Regions from separate parts of the Homo sapiens genome. Here all the other regions are linked to region 5. Evidence: fine-mapped QTL for protein levels in blood plasma. Region 5 holds a variant in brackets. A gene starts in each other region. All regions are shown on their reverse strands. Distances are between the middles of the regions.

The links. A credible set is the group of variants that fine-mapping cannot tell apart. PIP is the chance, under the fine-mapping model, that this variant and not a neighbour inherited with it causes the effect. Protein levels are from antibody-based Olink assays in UK Biobank. Linkage for the fine-mapping came from a reference panel and not from the study's own genotypes, which makes the PIPs less certain.
Region 1: it holds the start of CCL14, and the variant in region 5 is the best candidate, but not a certain one, in a credible set for the plasma level of the CCL14 protein (UK Biobank, PIP 0.64).
Region 2: CCL13 starts here. The variant in region 5 is the best candidate, but not a certain one, in a credible set for the plasma level of the CCL13 protein (UK Biobank, PIP 0.77).
Region 3: it holds the start of PPBP, and the variant in region 5 is the best candidate, but not a certain one, in a credible set for the plasma level of the PPBP protein (UK Biobank, PIP 0.82).
Region 4: it holds the start of BCL2L11, and the variant in region 5 is the best candidate, but not a certain one, in a credible set for the plasma level of the BCL2L11 protein (UK Biobank, PIP 0.67).
Region 6: it holds the start of RSPO1, and the variant in region 5 is the best candidate, but not a certain one, in a credible set for the plasma level of the RSPO1 protein (UK Biobank, PIP 0.84).
Region 7: it holds the start of CCL26, and the variant in region 5 is the best candidate, but not a certain one, in a credible set for the plasma level of the CCL26 protein (UK Biobank, PIP 0.72).

What each region holds. Positions count from the first base shown.
Region 1 is chr17:35,984,820-35,988,885 of GRCh38, reverse strand. It overlaps CCL14 (C-C motif chemokine ligand 14), which reads left to right and starts at 2,157. Exons shown (of 3, transcript NM_032963.4): 1 at 2,157-2,315. The coding sequence starts at 2,237. CCL15-CCL14 (CCL15-CCL14 readthrough (NMD candidate)) reads left to right here. Exons shown (of 7, transcript NR_027922.3): 5 at 2,182-2,315.
Region 2 is chr17:34,354,799-34,358,873 of GRCh38, reverse strand. CCL13 (C-C motif chemokine ligand 13) reads right to left here and starts at 2,394. Exons shown (of 3, transcript NM_005408.3): 1 at 2,272-2,394; 2 at 1,285-1,399; 3 at 264-848. The coding sequence starts at 2,347. The coding sequence ends at 743.
Region 3 is chr4:73,984,500-73,988,499 of GRCh38, reverse strand. PPBP (pro-platelet basic protein) reads left to right here and starts at 310. Exons shown (of 3, transcript NM_002704.3): 1 at 310-544; 2 at 848-983; 3 at 1,126-2,061. The coding sequence starts at 397. The coding sequence ends at 1,228. RefSeq lists enhancers at 2,631-3,143, 3,144-3,657.
Region 4 is chr2:111,118,436-111,122,507 of GRCh38, reverse strand. BCL2L11 (BCL2 like 11) reads right to left here and starts at 1,594. Exons shown (of 4, transcript NM_138621.5): 1 at 1,320-1,594. ACOXL (acyl-CoA oxidase like) reads right to left here. Exons shown (of 18, transcript NM_001142807.4): 18 at 3,960-4,072. RefSeq lists silencers at 1-69, 862-1,156, 1,490-2,029 and enhancers at 1,040-1,159, 2,310-2,389.
Region 5 is chr2:224,007,982-224,012,056 of GRCh38, reverse strand. All of the region lies in intron 1 of SERPINE2 (serpin family E member 2), which reads left to right. LOC124907990 (a long non-coding RNA gene) reads right to left here and starts at 3,180. Exons shown (of 2, transcript XR_007088102.1): 1 at 2,900-3,180. RefSeq lists enhancers at 2,060-2,635, 1,560-2,759. The variant C/T (reference allele first, on the strand shown) is at 1,900.
Region 6 is chr1:37,632,969-37,637,043 of GRCh38, reverse strand. RSPO1 (R-spondin 1) reads left to right here and starts at 2,152. Exons shown (of 7, transcript NM_001242908.2): 1 at 2,152-2,478. RefSeq lists enhancers at 1,751-2,277, 2,278-2,805, 3,334-3,861.
Region 7 is chr7:75,770,619-75,774,679 of GRCh38, reverse strand. CCL26 (C-C motif chemokine ligand 26) reads left to right here and starts at 2,469. Exons shown (of 3, transcript NM_001371938.1): 1 at 2,469-2,576; 2 at 2,677-2,791. The coding sequence starts at 2,504. RefSeq lists a silencer at 1,655-1,949.

The DNA of each region.
Region 1 (4,066 bases), not on the chromosome of region 5:
CAGGGTCATCTTCAATCCCTCCCTCCAAGCCTAGCCCAGGACTTGGCATATGATACTGTGTCAAAGAAGTGATGTGGTCACAAAACCTATTCCTTTTTCTTCCTAAGCATACAGATGATGTATATTTTCCATCCCTTTGTCATTATGTTGGAGCCAGGTTACTTGATGCTGGCCATGGAATGTGGGTGAAAGTAATTTGTACCATTTTCAGAACTGATCCACAAAAATCTCCCAATCCTCCTCTGCTTCTCCCTTTTTGTATCAAGCTTGGAGGCCTTGTGCTGAAAATGGTGGCATCCAAGGTAGAAAAAGGCCTGGTTCCTGAATGAGTACATGGAGGATCCCAACACACACACCATCATCCCACTACTGACCCACACTGGACTGTAACATGAGCAAGAAATAAACTTTTATTTAATTAGTCTGCTGGATTGTTTATGATAGCAGTTGGCACACACAGACTAATGTAGGTAGGAACTCAATACTTGCTGGAAAAGTACAGGAACTTCCTGTAAGTCTCCTAGAAACAACTTGGCAGGTTGGCTAGTTTCCACAAAAACAAGAAGTAAGCATTATTTCTTTCCAACTCACTTTTCCTATAAACAACTTGTTTCCTGAGATTGTTCCTGATAACAATTATTATCATTTAACTTGAAGGGTTTACATAATGTTGTTATTGATGATAAGAAATATAGAAAATTTTTAATTGATGACTGTCTCCACAACTAACCATGAGATTTCAGCCATTTCCTATAAGATACACATATGTAGACCTGGCTCAATTTGTTTATTCATCCTTCTTTTAAAATGTATATTCATAAAGCACCTGGTATACACTAGGTTCTGCGTGAATGGGCAAAGATAAATAATAGATGTTCTCCATCCTGATGATTCAGATGAGGAGAGGAGATTAAATAACCATCTAACCACATCAGCAAGCAGAATGGGGGATGTACCTCCAAGAACAGCATGGTGAGGGCACTAAGCTGAGAGCCTGCGGAGATGAGATCTGTCCTGCATCCAAATCACTGTGTGCACATGAGAAAGTCACTGGTCCTTTCTGATTCCCAGCTTCCATTCAGTAAATGGCCAGTTTAGACAAATCAAATGGCAGATACATAGCATGCAAGCTGCACTGCAACAGAAACTGCACGTTGGTCACAGCGTATCTTCCCAATGTGCCTGGATATGGCCTCAGAATCATTTCCAACACAGAGCTCCAGTCCACCACTAATCAATGAAACCTACTAGCTATCCCTGAATTAGACATTTTCTAGGGTTCCCACCAAGCTTCTTTGCAGCAAAAGTCAGAGAAACCAGGAGAAGGTCCCAAAGAGATCCACTATCTGATTTCAGAAAGGACTAAGACTAAAGGCTTTATAGAAAACCCATAAGCTTTTACAGAGCTCCGTTGGGAGTCCCATGTTTCTTTATGGCATAATGGGTGAGAACACAGACTTGGAAGCCAAACCACCTGAATTTGAACCCCAGTTCCATTTACCAACTGTCAAAAGCTTAGGCTTTGATTCTGAGCCTGTTTCCTCAACTGCTGTTCTAAAGATTAAATAGGCTAATATTCATAAGGCAACTGGGACAGTGGCTTGTGTGTATAGCAACCATTATATAAGTGAATTATCTACTGAGCACCACAGCACTTCTTCACTCCATGGTGTGGTGACCAGAATGGAGATGAGACAGAGAACTGCAGGTTCTGCTTCGAGTTTAAGTTAGGATTTCCCTTGACCAATGAGACCTGACTTGGAGGAGTCCTGGCCTCATTCCATTACCCCAAACACCCTCTAGTCTCTAGATGAACAGATCCTGAATGTCCAGGCCCCACGTGGCCTGTTCTAAGGCCTGAGATGGAATTGGATACAGGACACATCCAGCCTTGAGATCTTTTGCTAAGTGTGACACAGTGCCCCCAGCCCTGTGCTCATGTTCATGCCTAGGGAAAGGCTTCTATCAAAAGAGTTGAACTTCTTCCCACTGGGGATGGAAGACCATTTCCTCCCTTAAACCTTGGCTCTCCCTGCTTCCTTCAGGCCACCAACAACACATGTGCAGGATATGAAATTGCTGAGGCATCACTGCTTTCCTACTTCCCTTCCAAGTCTCAGCTCCCTTATTTTAAAAAATATTTGGCCTCAATGATCATTTCTCAACAATTCCTCACCGCAGGAGCCTCTGAAGCTCCCACCAGGCCAGCTCTCCTCCCACAACAGCTTCCCACAGCATGAAGATCTCCGTGGCTGCCATTCCCTTCTTCCTCCTCATCACCATCGCCCTAGGGACCAAGACTGAATCCTCCTCACGTGAGTGCAATGCCTTGTCTTCCTTCCAACCTAGAGCCTGCAGGGAAATAAGCAGGAGTGAGGTTGGGGCTCAGGGGAAGACCAGGAGCAGGGACTCAGAAAGGAGGGCTGGTATCTTCTTGAAATTGTGTGTATAGCAACATTATATAAATGAATTATCTACTGAGCACCACAGCACTTCACCCCATGGTGTGGTGAGCAGGATGGAGATGAGACTTAGGACTGTAGGTTCTGCTTAAGAGTTTAAGTTGGGATCTTCCAGCCTTGACCAATGAGACTTGACTTGGGAGACTCCAGGCTTCATTCCACTACCCCAAATGCCCTCTAGTCTCCAAATAAACAGATCCTGAATCTCCAGGCCTCACATGGCCTTGATCTCTTATCATTGCCCCCCAGGACCAGTCCCCCCTTGCCCTCAAGGACATGGAGTGAGACCAGCCTGCCTCTCTACTCCCTCAATTTCTCTCTCTTTGCCGCTAAGCAAAAGAGTGGCCCACCCCATTTGGGGTATATTTCCTCAGGGAGATTAGGAGCAGTGTCTTGAGCCCCTCAAGGGCATTTTTCTATTGGCCTCCTGAGGTTTGGGCCCAGCCTGCTTCCAGCGTCACCTGTGCCCAGTGAGTGCAGCATTGCTTGGGTATGGGCTGGGGGGAAACACGACAGTGTGGGGTCCATCCTAGGCCCCCTTTTCTCAGCTGATTTCTTAGAATAAGCTGCCTTTAGAGATAACCAAAACTATTTATCACTCTTCCATTTTACCTACTCTCCTTTTCAGAAACTGGGGGGAAACCGAAGGTTGTTAAAATACAGCTAAAGTTGGTGGGTATGTGCACAGTTTGACTTGCCCTCTCCGATGTCATTTGTCAGCTCAGAGGAACAAGGTGGGAGAGTATAGGAGCTCTGACTGGGTCTCAGGAAACAGGGGCCCCTTATGCCGTTCTTTGGATCGTGAGGATGCTGCCTGGAATGGAGCTGGAAAACAGGATGAGACCCTTCCACCCAGACATCTGGCCACCCTCAGTGACCTCTGAGGCCATTGTGATGCACATCCATGATTCTATGAAGCAGGGTCACATAACATGCACACACCTGATTTCTCCACTCCATAACCACAACATGTGCCTGTTTGTACAGGGCTCTTGGCCTACAATGTCCTTCCTGCTACCTCTATAATTCAAGCTTGGGGTGGCTGCTGTCACCTTGCTTCTCCTATAAAAGCCATGAAACTTCTCAATCAGAAAATAGATGAAAAAATCACCCAATCCAGTGATTTTTAAAACTTTTTAGACCACAAAACCTTTTCTTCAAGCAATATCTTCCACAGAGGCCCAATATGTAAAACAGAAAAAATGGGTTGAGTAGGGTACAAGACACCACTCTCAAATGCAGCAAGGCCTCCACAATAGTCCCTGAGGCCCCCAGAGCTCCAGGGAGCTCAGTGTAAAAACCACTGATGCAGTCCAAGGGCCTCATTTACAGAGGAGGGAACAGGGGGAAAGTAAAATGGCCACAGTACACAGGAAGCACAGGCAAGGTTAGGTTAGGATTTGGGTGCCCTGACTCTGTGGCCTTTGTCCTTGGGGCTTGCTGTGGGCATCCTGCTCTCTCTGCAGGTTGTCGGTTCAATGGGGACATGGGCAGGGTGGAGCACTAGGAGGGGCTGGGTTTGCATTCCCAAATGGCATGTCTCCAAATCCCTATTGGGATTTCTTCCAAATATTCCTCCTATTTGGAGCACCTTTCCCGAATAA
Region 2 (4,075 bases), not on the chromosome of region 5:
GGCAGGAGTGTGGTTTTAAAGAAAGAAATGAACTGAATATGAAACGGATGAGTTGCGAGCCAGGAGCGCCCATGCTGGGGACTGGAGCCATTGTTCCAGAACAGCCTGGGCTGGTGAGGCAGGCCCTCCTTGAAACTCAGATGAGCCAGGCTAGCCCCATGGCCAGGGCCTCTGTACATCTGCCTTCCACTGGCATGCCATCCACCCACACCTCTGAGAGCCCCTACTGGTTGGCAGTTACTCCTGAAGAAAACACCACTGTGTAGGAGATTTTAAATAAAATGTATTTTCTGCAAAATGTCAGCAGTCCTACTATTGCATTCATCTTTCCACAATAACATATTTAGCAACACCTCACATTCACAAAGAGCTCTCCTTCCTACATTGCAGCATCCCTTCATGTCCATGACTCCCACAGGCATGCTCTCAACCCCTGGGAACCGAATACAAACCCACTGCCAGCAGCTCATAGTGGAAGGGAAGGGGGCTTAGAGACAGCAACCTACTTGCTCAAGGCCTTGCTTTAGAAAAGATCAGCAATACTCAAATAAACTCCAAACCAGCAACAAGTCAAATAATAGCCAATATTACTTAACACATAGTACATTTTGAATCACAAAACCGAATGCATCCTATTTGAAAATTATGGTAGAAGTATTCCAAAGCATAGAAGAGGAGGCCAGAGGAGAATGGAAAAGTCATTTCACGTACTCCAGCTTGATTTCAGTAGGGGTAGCAGAGTTCAAGTCTTCAGGGTGTGAGCTTTCCGGCCCAGGTGTTTCATATAATTCTGGACCCACTTCTCCTTTGGGTCAGCACAGATCTCCTTGCCCAGTTTGGTTCTGAAGCTGTGGAGGAAGGAGATCTGGCACAGTTAGATGGAACCCTTTGAGGGTTTACCCAGGAGATGACACACTGGGTTCTAAACCTGCCTGGTCCACCTACTACAGGTGAAGGGGCACCCCTCCAGGACAGGAAGTAGGAGGTGTGTGGACAGAAGGGGTCTCTGGAGGCAGCCACTGCTCTTGCTGCCCCTGGGAAACTGATCCTGGCATCTGCTAAAGGGTGTGGGCTGGTGCCCATCCAGGAAACAAGGTGTGGGAAATTATAGGTCCTCTTTGGACCTGTTGTGCAGCCAAAATTGGAGGATTTGCATCACACAGTCTGGCTAGATCTCATCCTAAGATCTCAAGTCAGTCTGACGTCTGTCTCCTGGGGCAGAACTTTGGATTGGGGAATGTGGGAGTGGGGAGGAGCCAGGTGAGCAGGGATTTTTCTACCCACATGACAGCCTTCTGGGGACACCTGCTGGTGGTGATCACATAGCTCTTCAGCCTCTGCAAGGAGATCTTCTTACTGCTAAATGTGAAGCAGCAAGTAGATGGGACGTTGAGTGCATCTAGAAATAGTTACAAAGAAAAAGACTTTGAGGATGTGTTAGGCTTTTCTCAGCTTGAATACAGCAGGGAGCATCTGTATGGGATGCAAAGCAAAGAGGAAGAAATAGATCTTACTCACCCCCAAGCCCAGCACTCCCACCCTAGACCCTGAGGTGAGGTGGGACCTGTGACATGTGCCTCAGGATCTCAAAGGCTCAGCTGCATGGTGGAGACATGTCACAGCCATCTAGGGGAGGCCACGGGCAAGGCCAGTGGGAAAGGTCCTGGGTGTGGTCCCAGATCTGCAGAGTTTGGGACGATCAGATGAGGTCAAAGAAAAGGCCCTAAATCTGGAGTCAGAAGCTTAGGTTTCATTCTTGCTCTGCAATAACCTGGAGGTGGATGGCTAGGGTCCCTTCTGCCTCCAACATGGGCTTCAGCTTTCTATCTTTAAAATTAGATGTTAAAGTGAACCTCTGAGGAGCCTTACTATTCTGGTGGGCTTAGAAGTGGGGCACTTGGCTGGGCCTGGTGGCTCACGCCTGTAATCCCAGCACTTTGGGAGGCCGAGACGGGAGGATCACTTGAGGTCAAGAGTTTGAGACCAGCCTGGCCAACATAGTGAAACCCCTTCTCTACTAAAAATACAAAAATTAGCTGCACGTGATGGCGGGTGCCTGTAATCACAGCTACTCAGAAGGCTGAGGCAAGAGAATCGCTTGAACCTGGGAGGTGAAGGTTGCAATGAGCCAAGATCGCACCCCTGCACTTCAGCCTGGGCAACATAATGAGACTCAATCTAAAAAAAAAGTGGAGGAGCACTCGGGCTTAGGTCTTCCTTGAATAGAGAAACAGAGGGAAAGAGAGGGAGAGTCGAAGGGAGGTGACTTACCTGGCTGAGCAAGTCCCTGGGGGTTGAAAGCTGCTGTCATGAGCAGCAGGCACAGAAGCACTGCAGAGACTTTCATGTTGAAGGTTAAGAGTTGGAGATTTCACAATGTTTCTTTGCCTCTCTGCTCCTCTGGCTGTTCCGCCGGCCTTTTATAGGGAGTGGAGAAGCTTGGAACTCTCAGAGGACCTTGGCCTGAGCAGGGCGTTGACCAAGTCATGATGAAGGGGGATCCTGAATCTGCTGAGCTGGAGCTGGGCACCAAAGACTTTTCTAGGAAATGCAAGAGGGAAGCTGAGGGCTGAAACAGCATGGCATGGCTTCCTTCTGGCTGTTCAGGCCACAAGGAGCCAGAGAGGAGAAAGGGACACAGACGCGCCCCAGCCATTCACCATGGGAAGCCATAAAGGAGCTGTTTTCTTCTTACTTTCTCCAACAGGAAAGAGAAAAACAATGAAAATTAACTCCTGTAGAGAAAGAGTGCTGTGCTAAGGACTCTGTTCACGTTATATATTTAGTTTGAGGAGGTACATACCATTATTATCATGCCCATTTCATAGAAGAGGAAACGGATGCAGAGAGATTAAATAACTTGACCAAAATCTTATGGGAAATGAGAGGGAAAGCTAGAAGAGAAAGCTGGTCTGCTTATATTTTATCACCAAGGCAGTTTCAACTTTTGTTTAGCAGCAGAAGTCTTTTTCCAAGTCAACTTTTATGTGGAAGTCTAATATCTGAAACAGATTAAGTCAGATTTCTGATGACAGGGGCTCCTTACATTACATATTGTGTCCCCTTCTGCCCCTCAGGCCCAGAGGGACATGGTTCAAACACCTCTGATTGATGCAGGCCCCGTGTTTCCAGGAAGGACCATTGGGTTTCTAGAGCTGTTGATGGGAGGGCTGGGGTGGCCCTCAGAGCAAAGAAGTGAGGTGTTTGGCCCATTCCTGGGCTCCTCCTGCGAGGGGCACATATCTGGGAGCTGGGAGGTGGGGAGGGAATGGCTTAAAATGGTTGAACATGTCCCTTTCCCACTCATCCCTAGCTCCAAGACTTGGCACAGTTTTTGTGCCTTCCTGGAATACTCATCCCTCTGCATTCCACTATAGCAAAATAAGCCCAGTGAAAGTAAAGGGAAGAAATAAAGAGCTAGGATTAGAGAAATAGGAAACAGTAAATATTAGAAAGGATAGATGAAGCCCAAAGCTGGTTCTGTAGCCTATAATTAAGCTAAAACTCTCCTGAACTGAAAATGAAAAAAAAAAGAAAAAAGGGGCTGAGGCGGGGGGATCACTTGAGGTCAAGAGTTCTAGAGCAGCCTGGACAACATGGTAAAACCCTGTCTTTACTAAAAAAAATACAAAAATTACCCAGGCATGGTGGCACATGCCTGTAATCCCAGCTACTTGGGAGGCTGAGGCAGGAGAATTGCTTGAACCTGGGAGGCCGAGGTTACAGTGAGCCAAGATTGCACCACTGCACCCCAGTCTGAGTGACAGAGTAGGACTCTGTCCCAGAAAAAAAAAAAAAGAAAAGAAAAAAGGAAAAAGGTACATATAACCAGTTGCAGAGCCTGCAGACACCAAAAAGAAAATGATAAGAACCTTATGCCAAAAATTTAGTTTAGAGGAAATGGATGAATTTCTTAAAAATCTAACTGACCAGGGTGCACAAATAAATAAAAAATAGAAAGTCATTCTAAAGCTATTAAAGAAATGGAATCAGGAATTGAAAATCTTCCCACAAAACATTCTCTGGGCTCAAAGGGCACAAACAGCTAATTCCTCCAAGCACTGAAGGAAGTGGT
Region 3 (4,000 bases), not on the chromosome of region 5:
GCGTATTGTTATAAATCATACAAAGAAAATGCATGTAGTATTTCAGTCTAGTTCTTACCTTCCTGAACGGAGTTCTTACACAGGTGTAAGGAAGATAAGTATTGAGAAAGGGAGAGTGGGAATGTGAAGTGATGCACATTAAGCAAGTTAGTAGGAATTTGACCTGTCTGGTCTTTCTCTGGGTTGGGCACAGCTTCAAATGCTTATGTGTGTATCACCACATACCCTCACTTCCTCCTTTCCTACCTCTTCCTTCTTACTGGCTTTGAGAAAGAGCATATAAATGACATCTTCAGGGCATGAGAAGCCACTTATCTGCAGACTTGTAGGCAGCAACTCACCCTCACTCAGAGGTCTTCTGGTTCTGGAAACAACTCTAGCTCAGCCTTCTCCACCATGAGCCTCAGACTTGATACCACCCCTTCCTGTAACAGTGCGAGACCACTTCATGCCTTGCAGGTGCTGCTGCTTCTGTCATTGCTGCTGACTGCTCTGGCTTCCTCCACCAAAGGACAAACTAAGAGAAACTTGGCGAAAGGCAAAGGTAGAGGCCCTGCTTCTCTGCACTTGTTGCTGCTTCTGCTACACCTGTCTCTGGGGTAAAGACTAGCTTGGTGCCTTTGGGGCTGGAGAGGGCCATTATACCAATAACTCCAATTGGAGGAGACACACAGGGGGGTCACTTCTCACTTCTTGTGTGCTGGGCAATCTTCTGGGCACTTTACTAAAGCGTTACAGATCATATTCACAATGGCTTTATGAGAGAGGTACAATTGCCCTCAATCTGCAAATAAGAGACCTGAGGAAAATATTCATGACCACCAATAGGTCACATTTTCTACCCTAGAGGAAAGTCTAGACAGTGACTTGTATGCTGAACTCCGCTGCATGTGTATAAAGACAACCTCTGGAATTCATCCCAAAAACATCCAAAGTTTGGAAGTGATCGGGAAAGGAACCCATTGCAACCAAGTCGAAGTGATGTAAGTTGCTGTTTCTGTGCTATTGCCTTATCAGAGAAACCCTCTACCTCCATCCACATATGCACTCGTTTCCTCCAGTCTCATGGATTAGTTCTGATATTCAGATCAGGACACCCACAGATAACCCTGTTCTCTTTTGCAGAGCCACACTGAAGGATGGGAGGAAAATCTGCCTGGACCCAGATGCTCCCAGAATCAAGAAAATTGTACAGAAAAAATTGGCAGGTGATGAATCTGCTGATTAATTTGTTCTGTTTCTGCCAAACTTCTTTAACTCCCAGGAAGGGTAGAATTTTGAAACCTTGATTTTCTAGAGTTCTCATTTATTCAGGATACCTATTCTTACTGTATTAAAATTTGGATATGTGTTTCATTCTGTCTCAAAAATCACATTTTATTCTGAGAAGGTTGGTTAAAAGATGGCAGAAAGAAGATGAAAATAAATAAGCCTGGTTTCAACCCTCTAATTCTTGCCTAAACATTGGACTGTACTTTGCATTTTTTTCTTTAAAAATTTCTATTCTAACACAACTTGGTTGATTTTTCCTGGTCTACTTTATGGTTATTAGACATACTCATGGGTATTATTAGATTTCATAATGGTCAATGATAATAGGAATTACATGGAGCCCAACAGAGAATATTTGCTCAATACATTTTTGTTAATATATTTAGGAACTTAATGGAGTCTCTCAGTGTCTTAGTCCTAGGATGTCTTATTTAAAATACTCCCTGAAAGTTTATTCTGATGTTTATTTTAGCCATCAAACACTAAAATAATAAATTGGTGAATATGAATCTTATAAACTGTGGTTAGCTGGTTTAAAGTGAATATATTTGCCACTAGTAGAACAAAAATAGATGATGAAAATGAATTAACATATCTACATAGTTATAATTCTATCATTAGAATGAGCCTTATAAATAAGTACAATATAGGACTTCAACCTTACTAGACTCCTAATTCTAAATTCTACTTTTTTCATCAACAGAACTTTCATTCATTTTTTAAACCCTAAAACTTATACCCACACTATTCTTACAAAAATATTCACATGAAATAAAAATTTGCTATTGACTTGTTGTCATCTATTATTAATTTTAACAGGATTGTTGGGGAAAAAAAGCTTTAATTTTCCTCTCTTTTTTGTATACTTGGTATTTCACAGTTTGAACAACAAAAGTTACTAAATTGATGATCGGTGTCATTCTTAATGTAGTATGATAACAGTTCCAATTTATTAATCATTTTAATATGCCAGGAATACTAAGTGTTTTCCATGCATGAACTAAACAATTTTTTAAAAGATAGATATGATCTGGTTAAAAGAACATCCTCTGGAGTTTGAATAATGAGGTAACCTGGCTCTGCCACTTGTTAGCTGTGTATATCAGGTCATGTTGCTTAATTTCTCTGTACCTTAGGTTCTTCATCCCTAAAATGGGGATAATATTGCCTCCCTCATAGAGTTTATGGAAGGATTAAAAAAGTTAATAAATTTAAGGTATTTAAAATAATGTGTGTCATAAATAAGCCACACATAAATGTTAGTAATTATTTCTTATGATTATTATTATCCTCCCCAGTGTTACAGAAGAGAAAAATCAAGTTTATAGAGTTTAAAATACTTGCCCACTTTCAGATAACTAAGTAGGTAACAGAGTGGGAATTTCAAATTGTGCTCTTAACCACCACACCACAGTGCTTTCCTCAACTCTTCTTTCTCTAATGAAGAGATTACATTACATATAACATAGTATTATTCACACATGTAATACAACTTGATACATAAATAGCATACTGTATATACTATAATAATTATAGGGTATCAGGCATCTCACTCATTATGTTTAGTGGTTTCCCACTGAAACTTGACAAGACCAGCTCCTGAGACATGGCACAGTGTTGACACCATGCTTATACCTCCCGAGATGCAGATGTCTTCTGTTTTTGAGTGCATGTATTGAGTTACTCTGTTTACATGCAGAGAAAGAATGATTCAGTTGCCACTCAGGACCACCTGGATTCCTTTACACTGCAAACATTAAAATCTGGGTGTAAGACTGTAAAAACCCAGCGTGTTGCCCATCCATATGCAAAATCATCCCTCCCCTTCATTCTCTCTGCTGTTAACTCAGAAGGGGCTTCAAGTTTCAGGTTCATAAACACATATGAATTACAAAACATTCTGCAACAGCCATTGTGTTGGATACAGGATATTCAAAAATACAGTCATGTTTTGCTTAACAATTGGGATACATTCCGAGAAATGCATCATTAGGTGATTTTGTCATTGTGTGAACATCACAGGGTGTGCTTACACAAACCTAAATGGTATAGCCTACTACAAACCTAGGCTATATAGTACAGCCTATTGCTCCTAGGCTATAAGCCTGTACAGCATGTTACAGTGCTGAATACCATAGGAAGTTGTAACACAATGGTGAATATCTGAGTATCTAAACATCTGTAAATGTAGAAAGATATAGTAAAATTATGGTATAAAAGAGTAAAATGGTACACCTCTGTAGGGCAGTTACCACAAATGGAGCTTGTAGGACTGGAAGTGGCTCTGGATGAGTCGGAGTGTGAGTGGTGAGTGAATGTGAAGGCCTAGGACATGACTGTACACTTCTTTAGGCTTTGTAAACACTGTACACACTTAGGCTACACTAAATTTATAAAAAATATTTTTTCCTCAACAATAAATTAACCTTAGATTACTGTGTTTTTTATTTATAAACTTCTTAATTTTTAAACTTTTTGACTTTCGTAATAACACTTTAAACGCATTGTACAACTGTACAAAAACGTTTTTTCTTTATATCGTCATTTTATAAGCTCGTTTTCTTTTTTATCTAGTTATTTATTTATTTTAGAGAAGAGGTCTTTCTCTGTCACCCACACTGTAGTGCAGTGACATGATCATAGCTCTCTGCAGCTTCAAACTCTTGGGATCAAGTGATCTTCCTTGATCTTCACTAAAGATGTGCACCATCATGCCCAGCTAATTTTT
Region 4 (4,072 bases), 110 Mb after region 5:
TGGGGGCGGCGCCTACGGGTCAGGCCGCCAAAGGCGAGGCGATTGTTGACAAACTCGCCTCCGAGCGCTGCTCTGGCCGTGGTCGTGGCGGCTGCCGCTTCGTCGGAGGATTTGAGGGCCGGCTGGCCCGGCCACCCTGCCCATCCCTGTGCTCCTTCCGGACACAAGCCTTAGCAGCTCCCGCCGTCCTGGACAGCCAGTCACCTGGAGACAAAGCAGGACTTGCGCCGCGCCCGGACCCGCAGGGCCATCCCCAGGCCCAGTCCTCGCCACTTGTCCTTGTTTTGGCCCGTCGGGGGCAGACCCTAACGGCCGTCACCGCCCTGGCTGTGGCAACTATTCTCCTCCAACAACTTCCTCTCTCTCCTGGTGCGCCGCAGACACGAGTCAAAGCCGAAGAGCCACCCCTGGCCGCGGACGCGCACGTCCGCGACCATCGAGTAAATTCACACCCTCCGCCCTGGCGTCCGTCGGGCCCTCCACCAGCAGCGCCAACCCTGGGGCAACAGGTCCCAGAGGGCACGGCGCCGCCAGCCTGCACCGCGAACCGGGTCGGGTGTGCTCGGGCATGCGTGAGCCGCTAAGATAGCCCGGCCCAGGGACCGAGCAGGTTCTGCCGGCCGCGACTAGTCCCCTGCGCGGTCCAGGTGGTCAGGGGAGGACCTAGATTTCTCGCTGCCAGGGAATCGTGCGGATGGCACAGGCCGCAGGACTCCTGCAGAGCAAGCAGGGGCCCCAGGTACGCTTGAGAAAGCGAACGCAGCAGTGGCCCCGAAACCTTGGCCTGAATGAGTAAAAGGAAAAGCCGTGTCTCGTCAGTTAAATCACCACCGCAGTTCCGCAAATCCTCCGCAACAGGCCCACGCGCCCCAAAAAACCAAGACACGAAACACCCTCACACTGCGCGGCCGCTACTCTGAGGGCGCCGGAGCCGGCGGCGAGACTTTCCAGCTGGGCGCACAGCCCGATACTACGAGCAGGTCCTCAGCTCCCGGGCCGGCGCCGAAAGGCACGCGCTGCCTCTCCTCCTGCCCGGACCTACGACCCTTCACCAGGCCCGCGCGCAGCATCCCGTCCCAAGCCGCACTTCGGCCAAGAGCCTGCAGGTTCCGCGTGAACGACTTTTCTTTAAAGAGAACCTGCCCGAGAGGGAACCCGATCCACACGGATCCCCACCTCCCGCCGGCGACAAGCGGCGCCGATGCAAGCGTCTCCGCTCGCACGTGCACGGGAAGCGGGCAGTAGGTGGTGCCGTTCGGGCTCCAGCGCTAGTCTTCCTTCGGTGCCAGGCCCGCGCCCCGGGATTTGGAGGTATTTACCTTGCGTTTCTCAGTCCGAGAGTCAGAGTCAGACATTTGGGGGAACAAGGGCCAAGAAAGGGCGCCGAGGCGGTGGCGGCGGGAACGCAGCGAACCGAATACCGCGATGATGCGATCGCAGTGTGGCAGGGTTCGCAGGGTGGCTGCAAGAATCAAGTGGTGGTAGTGGCGGCGGCGGCGGCGGCGGCGGCGGCGGCGGCGGCGGCGGCAGCGGCAGCGGCGCTGGACGCAGAGCTCCAACAAACTGCAGACCAGGCGGCTGCGCGGAGCGAAGTGAAACCTGCGCGGCCCTGCAGCCCAGCTCTGGCTGGCGGCCCCGCTCCTACGCCCAATCACTGCGGACCCCGCCCCCGCTAGGTCCCGCCCCGGCGCGCGGGCTGGCAAGCTCCGCCCCCCTCGGCGCCGCGGCCGCCGGCGCGTGCAGGCTCGGACAGGTAAAGGCGGGGGTTGCCCCGCTGGGTTGCCTCCCGCGCGCGCCGCCGTCCCTGGCGTGTTTACCGGAGTAACTCTGCCTGCTGGCGGCCATGTGCGCGCCCATCCCCCACCCCGAAGTGTACCCTAGCCTCCCGCTCACCTACCCCAACCCGGCGGCGGCCGCGGCGTGCGCGGCACAGAGGGGGCGCTCCGGTCACAGCCTCCGCTGGCCCGGCCGGCGGTGTGAAGCCTCGGGAGGCGCCCTGCGCTCTCACTGTGCCCTGAGTTTCTAAGCCGCTCTGGGGCAGGCGCGGGGACTGGGTTGGTCCTCGCGAAGGCGCGGGGCGAGGTCTTTGAGCTCTCCTCCCTCTGAGGGTCCCTGGCGCCGGGCGGGACGCGGATCAGCAGGCTGCGCATCTTCCTCGCCCGGGCCTCTCGCGGGACTCAGGCACCCTCCTCCTGCCACCCCGCAGGGGCTCTCCAGCTTTTCTTCCGCGCCCAGTCGCCCTAAGAGACAGAGGCCGTGGGGGCAGGACGCGCCCAGAAAACGGCCAGGCGCGGTCCCAGTGGGCGTCTTCGCCGCCTCCCGGGTGAGGGCGGGAGGCATGTGCAAAGCAGGTAAAATAGGGAAATGAAAAAAGCACTCAGAAAAAAAAATCCTTTTAGGAAAAAAAAAAACGAGGTGAATGGCGGCCTCCAAGTGAGAGAGAACGTTGCGCACTGCATTTGGCTAGGACCCCCAAGATTTGCTGGGCTCGCAGATAACCTCGTAGGAGCTCCCTCGACTGGCTGAGGCCAGTGAAGGCAGAACAGCTGAGTTCGGGCCGCGGTGCGGGAGCGCAAAATACCCCGTCCCTCCTCCCCTCCCGCCTCCCCACCCATCCCTTTCCTCCCTGGAGTCCGCAGCACCTCACTCTACCTCCCAGGAGACCAAACTCCATGCCGCCTCTCCAGTCCTCTGAGTCTGCACCCGGGTCTGCTCTCCCAACGCGTGGCTGGCGCCCCAACCCCGGCCCTCCTGTCTGCTCCTCCCGCGCCTCAGTTCCCCAGCCCCAGCTTCTAGACAACTGCAGCGGGGGTGTGGGAGGTGGATCGGGAAATGGAACATCCCGCAGGTGAGGTCAGGCTAGATGGATTAAGGAAACTCTGTAAAGGGACCACCCTACACACCACCGCAGCCGGCAGGGAGAAGGAAGGGGCCTTGCCGTAGAGGAGCAAGTGAGGAGGCGTTGTCCCGCCGTCCGGCCGCCTGGAGCAGTTTTTAAATTCATAAGCGCTTCTGTAACGTCAGTGGGACACAGCGCAGCCCCATGCCAAAGTCTCAGCGCATTTTCGGGTGAATTTTGAGCGAGGTGAAGGAGGCCTTGGGTTCCCGGAGTCGCTGGAGGACGCGCGTCGGGCCCCGCCCAGTTATTTCGCTGCAAGAGGGAAAAGGCACGAGCGTGGACACGGCTAAGTAGACTCGGAGGCCGGAGATCGGTCCTAACCGGGCCTCGAAGTTCCTACCGCGGACGAACTTTGCTCTTCGCGGCCGTCCCGCGTCGCACCCGGGGAAAAGCAACACAACTTGCTGCGCGGGCTGAGAGCCCGAAGCCCGCCGCACGCCGCAATGCTCCGCGCTCCCCGCGGGGTCGGGCGACTCAGACAGGGACCGGAAAAGAACCACGCAGAAGAAAGCCCTATTTCTTGTCGTCTGTTCCTGTGCAGCCTTGCAGCCTCGCCGCCCCCGCGTCGCTCGCTCTCGCGACCCTGTGAACACTTTGAAAAACAAGAGTCGGGGGAAGCAACGGGCTAAGCGCTGCTATTTGGGGCACTAAAAGGAAGCCGGCCAGAGGTGGCGGGTTCATGCGTCCCCCGAGACCCAGGCCGCGTCGGGGGCCAAGAGCCCTTACAGCCTTCTCCCGCGCCGTCGGGAGGTCCTCCCGGAACTGGGCCGGAGCGCAGAGAACGCAGTGTGAGAAGGGCCCATGGGTTTTAGGTCACCTCCTTCGCGCTGGACGCGGGCAGAGCGGTGTCCCTTTCTGTCTCTGCCAAGAGACGTGGAGGGAGGGAGAAGGGAGGATGGCTTGTGCTGAAAGAAACAAGAATGAAGTCGGGCAGCCGGGATCTGAGAAATGGGAAATCCATGGCCCTTGTTCGGGACCACAGGCTTTGCCGACGTGGTCTCTCCTAGTTCCGAAATTGCCCAGGCCCGCCTCCCCACCCTCTGCAAGCAGCGGGAACGACTTCCACATCGCTTAATTTCTTTATTAAACTTTTCACCTATTCTCTTCTAAAGGACAGACTACAGCGTCAGATGGTAAAAATGTTTTCCGCGCCTTGTCTTGCCGTACGGAAAC
Region 5 (4,075 bases):
GGGAGGGAGTGGTGTTTGTGAACTCTCAACCACTTAGGGCCAACCAAGAAAGTGGCCTTCAACTCCCACTAGTAATTGACCGAGGTAACAGGTATAAACCATTAGCAACAAAGCAGATAAAAACTAGGAGATAAGTGCACAAAGCTGGTAAAAGGTCACCCACAGTGTCCCCTCCATTGGAGATTTAATTTGCAATTATAATTGCTATTGCAATTATTTATTGCAGAGAATATTGCAATACTTTTGCTACTGAAAATAATAGTAAACATTTTTGGACCTGAATCTTTTTTATTATCACATTAGGATTGATTGATAGAAGGGGTATTACTGTTCCAATAGATAGATACATTATTAAGATTATTTATGCGTACTAGGGATTGCCTTTAAAAAAGATTTTTAAAAAATCAATTTACATTTCTAACACTTGACACTCATTTTTTAATTGGCAAGAATCCAGAGAGTGTTAGTTTCTCGTCTCTGAATTGGAGGCCCATAGGCATATCAGGGTTATTCTAAAGGATCAGAGAAATCATGTTCATGGCCCAGTTTTGATTATAGATTGATAAATAATATCTCAAAATATGATTTCTTAAAATGTATCTAGGTACTGATAAAAAGAATTTGGATTTTATTGACATGTTTAAGAATTCATGGTTGTATTTTATGTATTTTTACCAATACTAAAAACATGGTCATGAACTATGTGTAATATTTTTTATGTCTAAAAAAGGTACTTCCATGTCTCTTGCTGAAGAGAGAAATTAAAAAGGTACTTCCTTGTTTTTAAAGATTGAGAACCATTGGTCAATGTCACTATAATGTCTTGGGTCACCTCTTGGTTGCTGGATTAGGAAATCAGCCATTTGGACCATTACGTCTTAAAGACATATCAAAAAGAAAAGTCTATAGGACTTGATACATAGGTAAACCAGATTTAATGATCTGAGTCAGCAGACCGAAAAACATATCTCAGCACTATTAAAGGTTTTCTGGGACATACTCACCCCTCCCCCTCCATTCCCACAGTAATGGACCCCTCAGTTCTCTTACAGAGACGGCAAAACGCACCAGCATTGTCTTAATTTATTTCTGAGTCTTAAATAGTCTAAGGAAGTTATAAAGATACAGACAAGGCTTTATCAAGGTAGCAGTGTTTGACTGTTTTCTTAGCTTGATCCTTGAGACTTTCTAAATGGTTGCTGAAATACAAATCAGAGTATTTCAGGTCTTGAGCATTGAAGAGGACCAGAAGAAGAGAGCCAGCATTTACTGAACACTTGCTCTGAGCCAGGTATTAGGCTGGTTACTATGTCTTTCAGTTTGCACCTATTGAATTTCCATGGCCACCCTTGAGATATGATTTCTAATATGGCAGAGGACAAAGCTAAGACGGATGAAGATTGTGACTTGCCTTGGATCTCTTGGTTAATGGGTAGTAGGATTGGAATTTGAACTTTAGGTGAATTTTCCCGGAAACTTAGAGGAAAATAGAATGAATATCCTGTAATCTTGAATTTTAAAAGACAGACTGCTAACAAAGCTCTAATCCCCTCCTTCCCCCTAGCCTTTTCCCATCAACCCAAAGAGATTTCAGAATGGATAATATATGGATAAAAGGCACTTGATGTCAGAGTGTACTTTATAATAAAATATGTGTCTTTTCATTGAAGGGACCATTTGGATGTTGCTGCCATACTTTTCAGCGGCTGAAAAGGTATTTCCTAAACATTTTTAGGTTCCTTTTTGGCCAAATTAATTAGTGTCATAGAATGAGCATACACTTTGAAGGCAGACAAAAATTTAAGAAAAAATTCAGATGTCTCTAAGTCTTTCTCCACTAACCTGAAAAACACATTTTAAAACTACCAAGCTGCTGTCCCCTTGATAAGTTGGCATTTC[C/T]TGTTTGTTCTCTAAATTTTAAAGATGCTGAGTCATTTTGCTAGTACTTAGTACACTTCCCAAGGATAACCAAGATGTACTTTAGTTTGCTTGTTCACCTGATTTGGTATCATAAGAAAATGTGGTAGATGTTTGGAAAATGAATACAGGTCTTGGTGGACATTATTTCAGTAATGCTTATACAGATTTGAGAGACAGAGACCATATGTGAGGCTTAACCCCGATTACTTGTACATTAACAATTACTGTCATCTTACAGAGACAGCCTTAATCTCCATGGCTCACCTCCTGAAGAGTTTCTAGAATGCCTCTTGCCAAACACCGTTGAGTGTTGGCAAAGTACTGATGAGAAATGTTTGGTCTGAATGCTGGACAGCACGATTTTACTTAAGGCCATTCAGAAGTCTCAGTTTGGCAGCCACAAACCTTGCCTGTACATTTGTTTTGTTGTTGTTTTTTTTTTGAGACAGAGTCTCACTCTGTCACCTGGGCTGGAGTGCAGTAGCACAATCTCGGCTCACTGCAGCCTCCACCTCCTGGGTTCAAGCGATTCCCACACCTCAGCCTCTGGAGTAGCTGGGATTATAGGCATGTGCTACCACACCCAGCTGATTTTTGTATTTCTAATAGAGACAGGGTTAAGCCATGTTGGCCAGGCTGGTTTCGAACTCCTGGCCTCAAGCACTCTGCCCACCTCGGCCTTCCAAAGTGCTGGGGTTACGGGCTTGAGCCACCGTGCCCGGCCTGTACATTTATTTCTTTGGGAAGCCCTGGCAGGAAAAGCTGTTGAGAGATGTCATGATTCGGACAAAACATACCTGCTGTTTTTCTCTACCTGCTGTAGCCCCTGTAGATTAATAAGGGGCCTTAGGTTCCAAGAACCAGGATCCTAGCAACACAGAGACTAGAAGGATGGCGAGACTTTCCCAGTGCCTGAGAAGGTGTCAGCTTTCACTGAGGGGCGGGGAGGGGAGAGGCTGAGATAAATCCGGGGACTCACCTTGCCGTGCTGTGTGTCGGTTGTTTGTCGCTGGCATCTGCACTGTTAGGATTCCATTTTTAGGCTGGGCTTGATTCAGGAGGCTCGCTGCTGTCACACGAGGGCAATCCACTTTGATTCTCCCAGCCCAGCTTTTAATGCCCAGCAGACTCCTTTATCTTGTCATCATCCAGCGAGCCTCCCTCGGTCTAGATGGCCATGGGAGGCAAACCCGTTCAGTGTCAGCAGCTGGTCTTTCATAATTTGATTTTCCAGTGATGTTTGAGCCATCGGTGTGAAACAGTCACCAGTCTGGCTCTCATAATTTGAATTTCAGTATTTGGATATATTCCAGAGAGTGGTGTAAATGGACTTTGGATTTTCCTTATCACTGTTGCTCAGCATTTCCACAGTTTAAAACATTTAGGGTTTATTAGATAAGGGTGCTCAGTGCTACTGTTTCTCACTAAAAGGAACCAGAGCTCCCTGGAGAAGTGGCTGATTCCATCTGGAACAGAAGATGTATAAAATGAGCCTAAACATCTAGTCAAACCGGAAAGCAAGGAGGCTAACAAGACTGTAGGGTTGTATCAGAAGGTTTAAGAACGAGTGTGAAGAGGCTCATTTTGAGCACCAATAAGAATAAATTTGCAGTGGATCGAGACCCTTAAAGTATGTTGAAAAACACGAGTTTATAGTGATACAGAAAATAGAACCCTCTGGTCAATCAACCTATTTTGAATTATTTTGAAAACTGTTGGATATGGGAAATGAATGAAGAATTTGTCCTGCCCTTGTAACACAAAATAAACCTCAGGGCAACCAAGTAGTTGATTATGGAAAACTTCTTTTTATATAAATATTCTAATTAATAAGTGAGGGAGGAAAGTTAGAATTATAACAGCACCCACATTTGGTAACTCTTAATAAAACAGTGCACTTAGGCGGTCATCATAAGTAGCTTGCTAACACCACAAAAAGAGACAGTCAGCTACCGTCTACTGATTTCACCACCCTCTACGGCACCTCTACAAAATATTCTTACAAAAAGAGAAAATTGACTTGAATCTGATCAGTCCCTACAGCTGGGGTCAGCAGGCTTTTCACGTAGAGGGCCACATAATAACTGTTTTTGGCTTTGCAGGCTATACCGTCTCTCTTGCAGCCGGGCACCTCTGCTCAGCTCCCTATCATAGC
Region 6 (4,075 bases), not on the chromosome of region 5:
GTGGCGTGATCTCGGCTCGCTGCAAGCTCTGCCTCCCGGGTTCATGCCATTCTCCTGCCTCAGCCTCCCCGATAGCTGGGACTACAGGCACCCGCCACCACACCCAGCTAATTTTTTGCAATTTTAGTAGAGACGGGGTTTCACCGTGTTAGCCAGGATGGTCTCGATCTCCTGACCTCGTGATCCGACTGCCTCAGCCTCCCAAAGTGCTGGGATTACAGGCGTGAGCCACTGCGCCTGGCCGAGAAAAAGACATTTCTAAGCAGAATGAACAGCATATGCAAATTTAGAGCAACACAGCTTTCCCAGGGAAACAACTCATTTGGCATAACCTGAACTGGGCTGGCCACTTGCAGGCTGTGTGTCTCTGAGCAATTGACTTGGCGTCTCTGAGGATCAGAATTTACATTTATGGGAAAAAAGGAAAAAAGAAAGGAACTACAATAGTTGCGAAATTAGGTAACAGAATATATGTGCAAAACACAGTGCTTGGCATACATTAGGTGCACAAGAAACATTCTTTCTTATTCACCCATTATTGTCACATGGTTCTAATTCGTTATCTTCTGTCACCCAGGTGGCTTTCTTCCCTTTCTCACTCATTCCTGAGCCTAGTAACGAGGCCCCCCAACTTCCACAGACTTTTCCTCAGGCAGGAAACCCGAGCCCACTGCCTGGCCTAGGACAGCTTCTAGGGCTGTGTGGTTTGTGTTATTTCTTCTCTTTTCTCTCTCTCTCCCTCTTTTTTTTCCTAAATGCAACAAAATAAAACCAAACAAAAAGCCCAATGCCTGGCGTGGCTTGTCAGAGAGTTATGCAAGTGTGTAAAAAAATAAAATAAAATAAACATTGAGTTTTCGGCATTTGGGGCTGTTTGATTAGACACAGAGCATAGCCAAGGGCCGGTTAGACGCAGGGAAGGCTCAGGGCAGAGGTGAGAGAGGAGGGACTTGAGTGGGGGTTGGAGGTTGGAGGGGGCCCCTGGACCAACTCGGAAATGACTGTTTGCCTCCTGCAAACTTGGCAATGCTCTGGCTGAATGAACCCAGACACTGGGCATTTCGGACCCAACTGCTCCACTTTCTCTGGCTATCCACCATCCCTGTTCCCTGGCCATTGGGACACTCTAGGGGTCATTACATCCATCCTCCTGTCATTGTAAACGACCCTGTGCCCTTAACTCAATAGTCAGGGCTCCCCCCTTCTCTCCTAAGAGGGAGATTCCACAGCCTGTCTTGATTACTCACCCCCCCTATACACACACACAATCAGTACATCTTTTCTGCTCTAGCTTAACTCCCACTAACTACAGTTTTAGCCCATTTTCCTTTCCCAATCTGAAGTGAAGCTGGAGAACAGCTGTTTGTCACTCTAAGAAGTGAGTCTCCTTCCCTCCCTTCTTCGGGCTTGACTTCAACATCATCTGGGTCACTGCAGGTGTCTGTAGCCGTTCAAGACTCATTCCACAAACATGTATGGGGTTCCCACCATTAACCAGAAGTTTGTAGCCTTCATTTCATTGAACCCTCAGAACAGATGAAGCCTTGCGATTCAGAGAGGTTCAGTAACCTAGGCATGACCACACAGCTGGTAAGTGATAGAGCCAGACATGAATCTAAGTGTTATTGTATGATCTCCCTCACTCTCACCTACCAGCTGCCTCTGGAGGTGTCCTCACCTCGGTGCCCAGGATCTGATAGCCTTGGTATTTCTTCTGAACTGGGAAGATGCACAGAAGATTTGACCCTGAAGGGGGAGAGGGTGTGGTCAAGACCACCAGGCTCTGTGGAGCCTGTTCCTTGTCACTTTCCAGGTTCCTGATGGGGAAACTGGGGTTTTCATGAGGGTCTCCGGCCGCGTTCTGACGCCAAGATGAGCGGAGTTGTTGCGGGTTCTCTGGCTGCGTGGAATCCCCGGGGCGCGGGGAGGGGCAGGGGACAAAAGCAGAAGGTCTGCCCCAGGGTCCTGGGGACTTGTCCCTCCGCCAGCCCCGCGCTCGGAGCGCAGAGCGCCAGCTTCGGGCAAGGACGTGTGGACTCCCGGGCCGGCGCTCCAGTCCATTTTTTCTTGCGGATCCCTGGAAGGGGGGCCGGCTCGCGGGGGGGACTGCGAAGGGGGGGATTCCCTCCCTGGTGCTCGCAGAGGACTGGCCCCTCTCCGGGCTGGGAGCTCCGGCCGAGCGGAGGCGCGACGGAGAGCACCAGCGCAGGGCAGAGAGCCCGGAGCGACCGGCCAGAGTAGGGCATCCGCTCGGGTGCTGCGGAGAACGAGGGCAGCTCCGAGCCGCCCCGGAGGACCGATGCGCCGGGTGGGGCGCTGGCCCCGAGGGCGTGAGCCGTCCGCAGATTGAGCAACTTGGGAACGGGCGGGCGGAGCGCAGGCGAGCCGGGCGCCCAGGACAGTCCCGCAGCGGGCGGGTGAGCGGGCCGCGCCCTCGCCCCTCCCGGGCCTGCCCCCGTCGCGACTGGCAGCACGAAGGTGAGTCCCCTCGTAGCTGCCCCATCCTTCTCCCCAGCGCCCCCTTCCCCGGGAGCTGGGGCGCGGCGGGCCCTCCCGTCGGGGCTGGTTCTAGCTGGGTGCGTGGGGGGAGACAGAAAGGAAGGGGAGTCTGATCGCTCTCCGGTCGGCGATCAGGACAGGGCACCTCCTGCACCCTTCCTGCAAGTCTGCCGCCCCCGTCGGCCCTCAATCCAGCAGGCAGCCTCTTCCCCTCGAACTCCCCTCCATCCCGCAGCCCCGGGTGATCATCCTCACTCGCAGTCCTGAATTCCCCAAGTCCACCAGCCCTGTTTATACCCCGCCTCCAATCCAGAAGTTCTTGATCCTGGGGCTCATTGGCTCGGATTCCCCCAAGTCCCACGGTCTCTGGTGACCCCCACCCCAGTCCGCAGCCTGGGCCTGGGTTCGACGTGGCAGGCGGCATGCGCTGCGGCCCCCGGTGCGCAGCGAAGTGGCGCGGCTCCCTGGCCCTCGGGGTCTGGCGCTCAGGAACCGATGGTATCGCTTAGTTGGGGAGAGGTGGGGGCTATGTTCGCCCGGGACTCCCTGGAGGGCCGGGACAGACTTGGAGTGAGTGTGCTTGGGGGCAGGAGTTTTCTTGTGAAACTGGCCTCTCAGACGTGGACAGCTCTCTTGGCTCTTGAGGGCCAGCCAGGGGAACCTCAGGTCCGCGTCTCCCTCGGCACCTGTTGGGGCCTCTGCGGGATGGTGGGGGAGGGAAGAAGAATGTGCGCGCTTGCGGGGGTGATGGAGGGGTGAAGAAGCCATCCTCCGCTGCCCTTGCTTTTGGAGGGGGGGCACGGCCCCAGCACCTGGCTTGGCTCCGACAGACAGGCTAATCCCGACAGGTCGGACAGGCACATACTTTGTCCCGCCCCCCGCCCGCAATTCTTCTGCCCCCGCCTGCCAGCCTGCTGGGCGGCCAAAACTCTCCAGCCTGTAGCCCGGCCCGGGGAGGGCTAATGCGAAATTATCTAGATAGTTTACATTTTTGGGTCTGTATCGGGCCCCTGATGGAGTACCACTTTATTCTGACGGTATTGCAGGCAAGAAGGTGAAAGTGATTCCAGCCCCCTCCCGGGGCTGAGTTTCTGCCCTCAGCTCCACCTCCAGCTGTGTCCCCCTCCCCGACCTGTATACTCCCCTCCGAGGCCCTTGTGGCCTCTCGCTTTGGTCTCCCTTCTCAGCTCTGCCTCTGCCACCAGCCCCGTCCCCACTTTGCAGGTCCACTCCCCAAGCTGGGTTGTGCCCCACACTCAGCAGCTCCCAGCGGGTTGCCCCGCCCTCCCCACACCCAGTCCTGGGTAGCAAACCTGAGGGCAGGTCCCTAACTGGGTCTGTAACCCCTGGGACACTTAACCATTCAGGGCCAGGTCTCTTCCCCTGTAAAATGGAAATAATTCTACCTTCCTCCTTCCATTGTGAGGAGTAAACGAAGACCTGGCACATGGCAGGTGGAGGGAGGCATCTAACAAGTGTGAATCCCTCACCCCCACAGTGGCAGAGAGAAATGCCCTTTCTTACCCCCACCAATAACCTGAGGCACTGCCAGCAGTCCCCATTCTATCTGTGTAGA
Region 7 (4,061 bases), not on the chromosome of region 5:
GAGGTCAGGAATTCGAGACCAGCCTGGGCAACATAGTGAAACCCTGTCTCTACTAAAAATACAAAAATTACCCGGGCATGGTGGTGCATGCCTGTAATCCTAGCTACTCAGAGGCTGAGGCAGAAGAATCATTCGAACCCAGGAGGTGGAGGCTGCAGTGAGCTAAGATTGTGCCACTGTACTCCAGCCTGGATGACAGAGCAAGACTCTGTCTCAAAAAAACAAACAAACAGCTGGGCATGGCGGTTTATGCCTGTAATCCCAGCACTTTGGGAGGCTGAGGCAGGTGGATCACTTGAGGTCAGGAGTTCGAGACAAGACTGACCAACATGGTGAAACACCATCTCTACTAAAAATACAAAATTAGCCGGGCGTGATGGCGCATGCCTGTAATCCCAGCTACTTGGGAGGCTGAGTCACGAGAATTGCTTGAGCCTGGGAGGCAGAGGTTGCAGTGAGCCGAGATTGTGCCATAGCACTCCAGCGTATGCAACAGGAGCAAAACTCCATCTCAATAAAAACAAAAACAAAAACAAACCACCCTCTCATGATCATCCAGACTGTTGTGCCTGGTTTGAGTGACAGGCAACTCACCATCTATCCTCTTCCCACCTACAACAGCTCTGACTATCACAAACTTCTGTTAAGTTCTTTTAAAAATTTGGCTGAAGCCAGGTGTGGTGGCTCTCCCCTATAATCCCAGTGCTTTGGGAGGCTGGAGTAAGCAGATCGCCTTGAAGCCAGGAGTTTGAGACCAGCCTGGCAACCTTTGGGCTCTACAAATTTCTTTTTTTTTGTGACAGAGTTTTGCTCTTTTTTCTTAGGCTGGAGTGCAATGGCACGATCTTGGCTCACTGCAACCTCTGCCCCCCAGGTTCAAGTGACTCTCCTGCCTCAGCCTCCCAAGTTGCTCGGATTACAAGCATGAGCCACCACAAAATTAGCCCGGCTAATTTTTGTATTTTTAGTAGAGACGGGGTTTCACCATGTTCGCCAGGCTGATCTCAACCTCCTGACCTCAGACGATCCCCCTGCCTCTGCCTTCCAAAGTGCTGGGATTACAGGCGTGAGCCACTGTGACTGGCCCCACACACACACACAAAATAATAATAATAATTGACCAGGTATGGCCAGACGTGGTGGCTCACTGTAATCCCAACATTTTTGAAGGCCAAGGTGAGACAGTCACTTGAGCCAAGAGTTTAAGACCAACCTGGGCCACATAGAGAGACCTCATCTCTATTTTTTTTTCTTTTTTGAGACAGTCTTGGTCTGTCGCCCAGGCTGGAGTGCAATGGCGGGATCTCGGCTCACTGTAACCTCTGCCTCCTGCATTCAAGCGATTCTCCTGCCTCAGCCTCCCTAGTAGCTGGGATTACAGGTGCCCGCCACCGTGCCTGGCTAATTTTTTTATTTCTAGTGGGGACGGGGTTTCACCATGTTGACCAGGCCCTCTCTCTCACTATATATATATATTATTTGTTGTTGTTTGTTTGTTTTGTTTTGTTTTAAGCCTCGGGTGATTGTGATGATCTGTCAGGTTTGGGATCTGTTAGATCTCTCAAATGCCCCCAGCCAGCCCTGGCCCTACAGGTGTGGCCCCAAGAAGATGGGCTGGCACCTGCCTGGACCCTGTTTTTAAATATCCATTGTCGAGGTTGGGCTACTCTATGATCACATCTTGAGACCATCCAGAGCTCCACACAGAGATAAGCAATGCTTAGAAAGGAAACAAAACTTTGCCCAAGAGCCAGAAACCTATCTTCAACAACCAATTGTGCTATAAAGTAACTTAGTTCAGTTCACTGGAATATTACTTAATTTCCTCTGCTTTTTCTTTTTAAACAAGAAAGTGTTGACTCAGCCAACAGCACTGGGAACCAGACTCCCTGGGGCCTGCCTGCCCCTGCTCTTCTCCCAAATTCTCTTCTTTTTTTGTCCCTGTTGATGGAATTCAATAAAGGGATCTCTACCATCTGTCACTTGTTTTTTTTTGTTGTTTGTTTGTTTGTTTTTTTTTTTTTTGGCAGAGTCTCACTCTGTCGCCCAGGCTGCAGTGCAGTGGTGCCATCTCAGCTCACTGCAACCTCCACCTCCCAGGTTCAAGTGATTCTCCTGCCTCACCCTCAGGAGTAGCTGGGATTACAGTTGCCTGCCACCATGCCCGGCCAATTTTTGTGTTTTTAGTAGAGACAGGGTTTCTCCATGTTGGCCAGGCTGATCTTGAACTCCTGACCTCAAGGGATCCGCCCACCTCGGTCTCCCAGAGTGCTGTGATCACAGGCATGAGCCACCACGCCCAGTGCCAGATTATCTTTCTTCACTGTCTAATTTCATTCCTATGAGTATTAGTTTACTTTTCCTTTGTTGGGTCAAAAGTGCTGCTTCTGTTCCCAACCACAGAATTCTCTGGAATTGTTTTCAGGGCCGTCTCAGTCTCATAAAAGGGGATCAGGCAGGAGGAGTTTGGGAGAAACCTGAGAAGGGCCTGATTTGCAGCATCATGATGGGCCTCTCCTTGGCCTCTGCTGTGCTCCTGGCCTCCCTCCTGAGTCTCCACCTTGGAACTGCCACACGTACGTAGCTGGCCCATTCCCCTCCTGGGGTTCCTTCCCGGACCGCCTGGGAGTGGATGGAAATGAGTATCTCCAAACCCTTCCTCTCCCTGATTTTTAGGTGGGAGTGACATATCCAAGACCTGCTGCTTCCAATACAGCCACAAGCCCCTTCCCTGGACCTGGGTGCGAAGCTATGAATTCACCAGTAACAGCTGCTCCCAGCGGGCTGTGATGTGAGTATTTCTCGGACGTACTTTCTGGGGCCCCATCAGTCATGCAACAGGATGGGTGCTGGGCAGACCCCCAGGATGAGCCTTGGGATGGGAACCTGGAAACCCCACCTCTGCACACTAACAAGTGTGACTCTGAGCTTCAGGTAGAACCTGACTTTTTTTTTCTCTTTTTGAGACGGAGTTTCTTTCTTGTTGCCCAGGCTAGAGTGCAATGGCACGATCTTGGCTCACTGCAACCTCCCCCTCCCGGGTTCAAGCAATTTTCCTGCCTCAGCCTCCCAAGTAGCTGGAATTACAGGCACATGCCACCATGCTCAGCTAATTTTTGTGTTATTAGTAGAATTTCACCATGGTTGGCCAGGCTGGTCTTAAACTTCTGAGCTCATGTGATTTGCCCGCCTCAGCCTCCCAAAATGCTGGGATTACAAGTGTGAGTCACTGGACCCAGCCAATCCCCACTTTTAATAAACTCACAGTGAAGTAAGAGCTCAGGAATCATCAGCTATGATGAATAACCTTGAAAATGTGGCTAACAATTAAATGACATGTTGAGTGCAGGGTTCCTTTCTGGGGTGATGAAAATATCCTAAAATTGATTGTGGTGATGGTTGCATAATCTATGACTATACTAAAAACCATTGAATTATAATTATAGCCTTTAAATTGGTGGAGTTGTACATGGTGGGGAGGTTTAGACGATCGCTTGAGCCCAGGAGTTCAAGGCTGCAGTGAGGTATGATCGCACCACTGCACTCCAGCCTGGGTAACACAGAGAGACTTCATCCCTAACAAAAGAGAAAAAAAAGAGTGAATTACAGTTATCCCCCAGTAACCACAGGGGATTGGTGCCAGGATTTTGGCATACAATTTCCCCTGAATTTATGCAGCTTTTGCATCACCGAGTTTTGTATTTTCTATCCTCCTTTGGTTGGCAAAAGGCTGCCTATGAGTGGGCCCACAGAGTTCAAATCCGTGTTGTTCAAGAGTCAACTGTATGTGCCGTGTGAATTATATCCCAACAAAGCTGTTCTATTACAATGAAAGAATCAGCCAGGTGAGGTGGCGCAGGCCTGTAAGCCCAGTTACTCCGGAGGCTGAGGCAGGAGAATCGCTTGAACCCGGGAGGCGGAGTTTGCAGGAGTAGAGATCGCGCCACTGCACTCCAGCCTGGGTGACAAGAGAGAAACTGTTTCAAAAAAAATAAAATAGGCCGGGCGTGGTGGCTCACGCCTGTAATCCCAGCACTTTGGGAGGCTGAGGTGGGCAGATC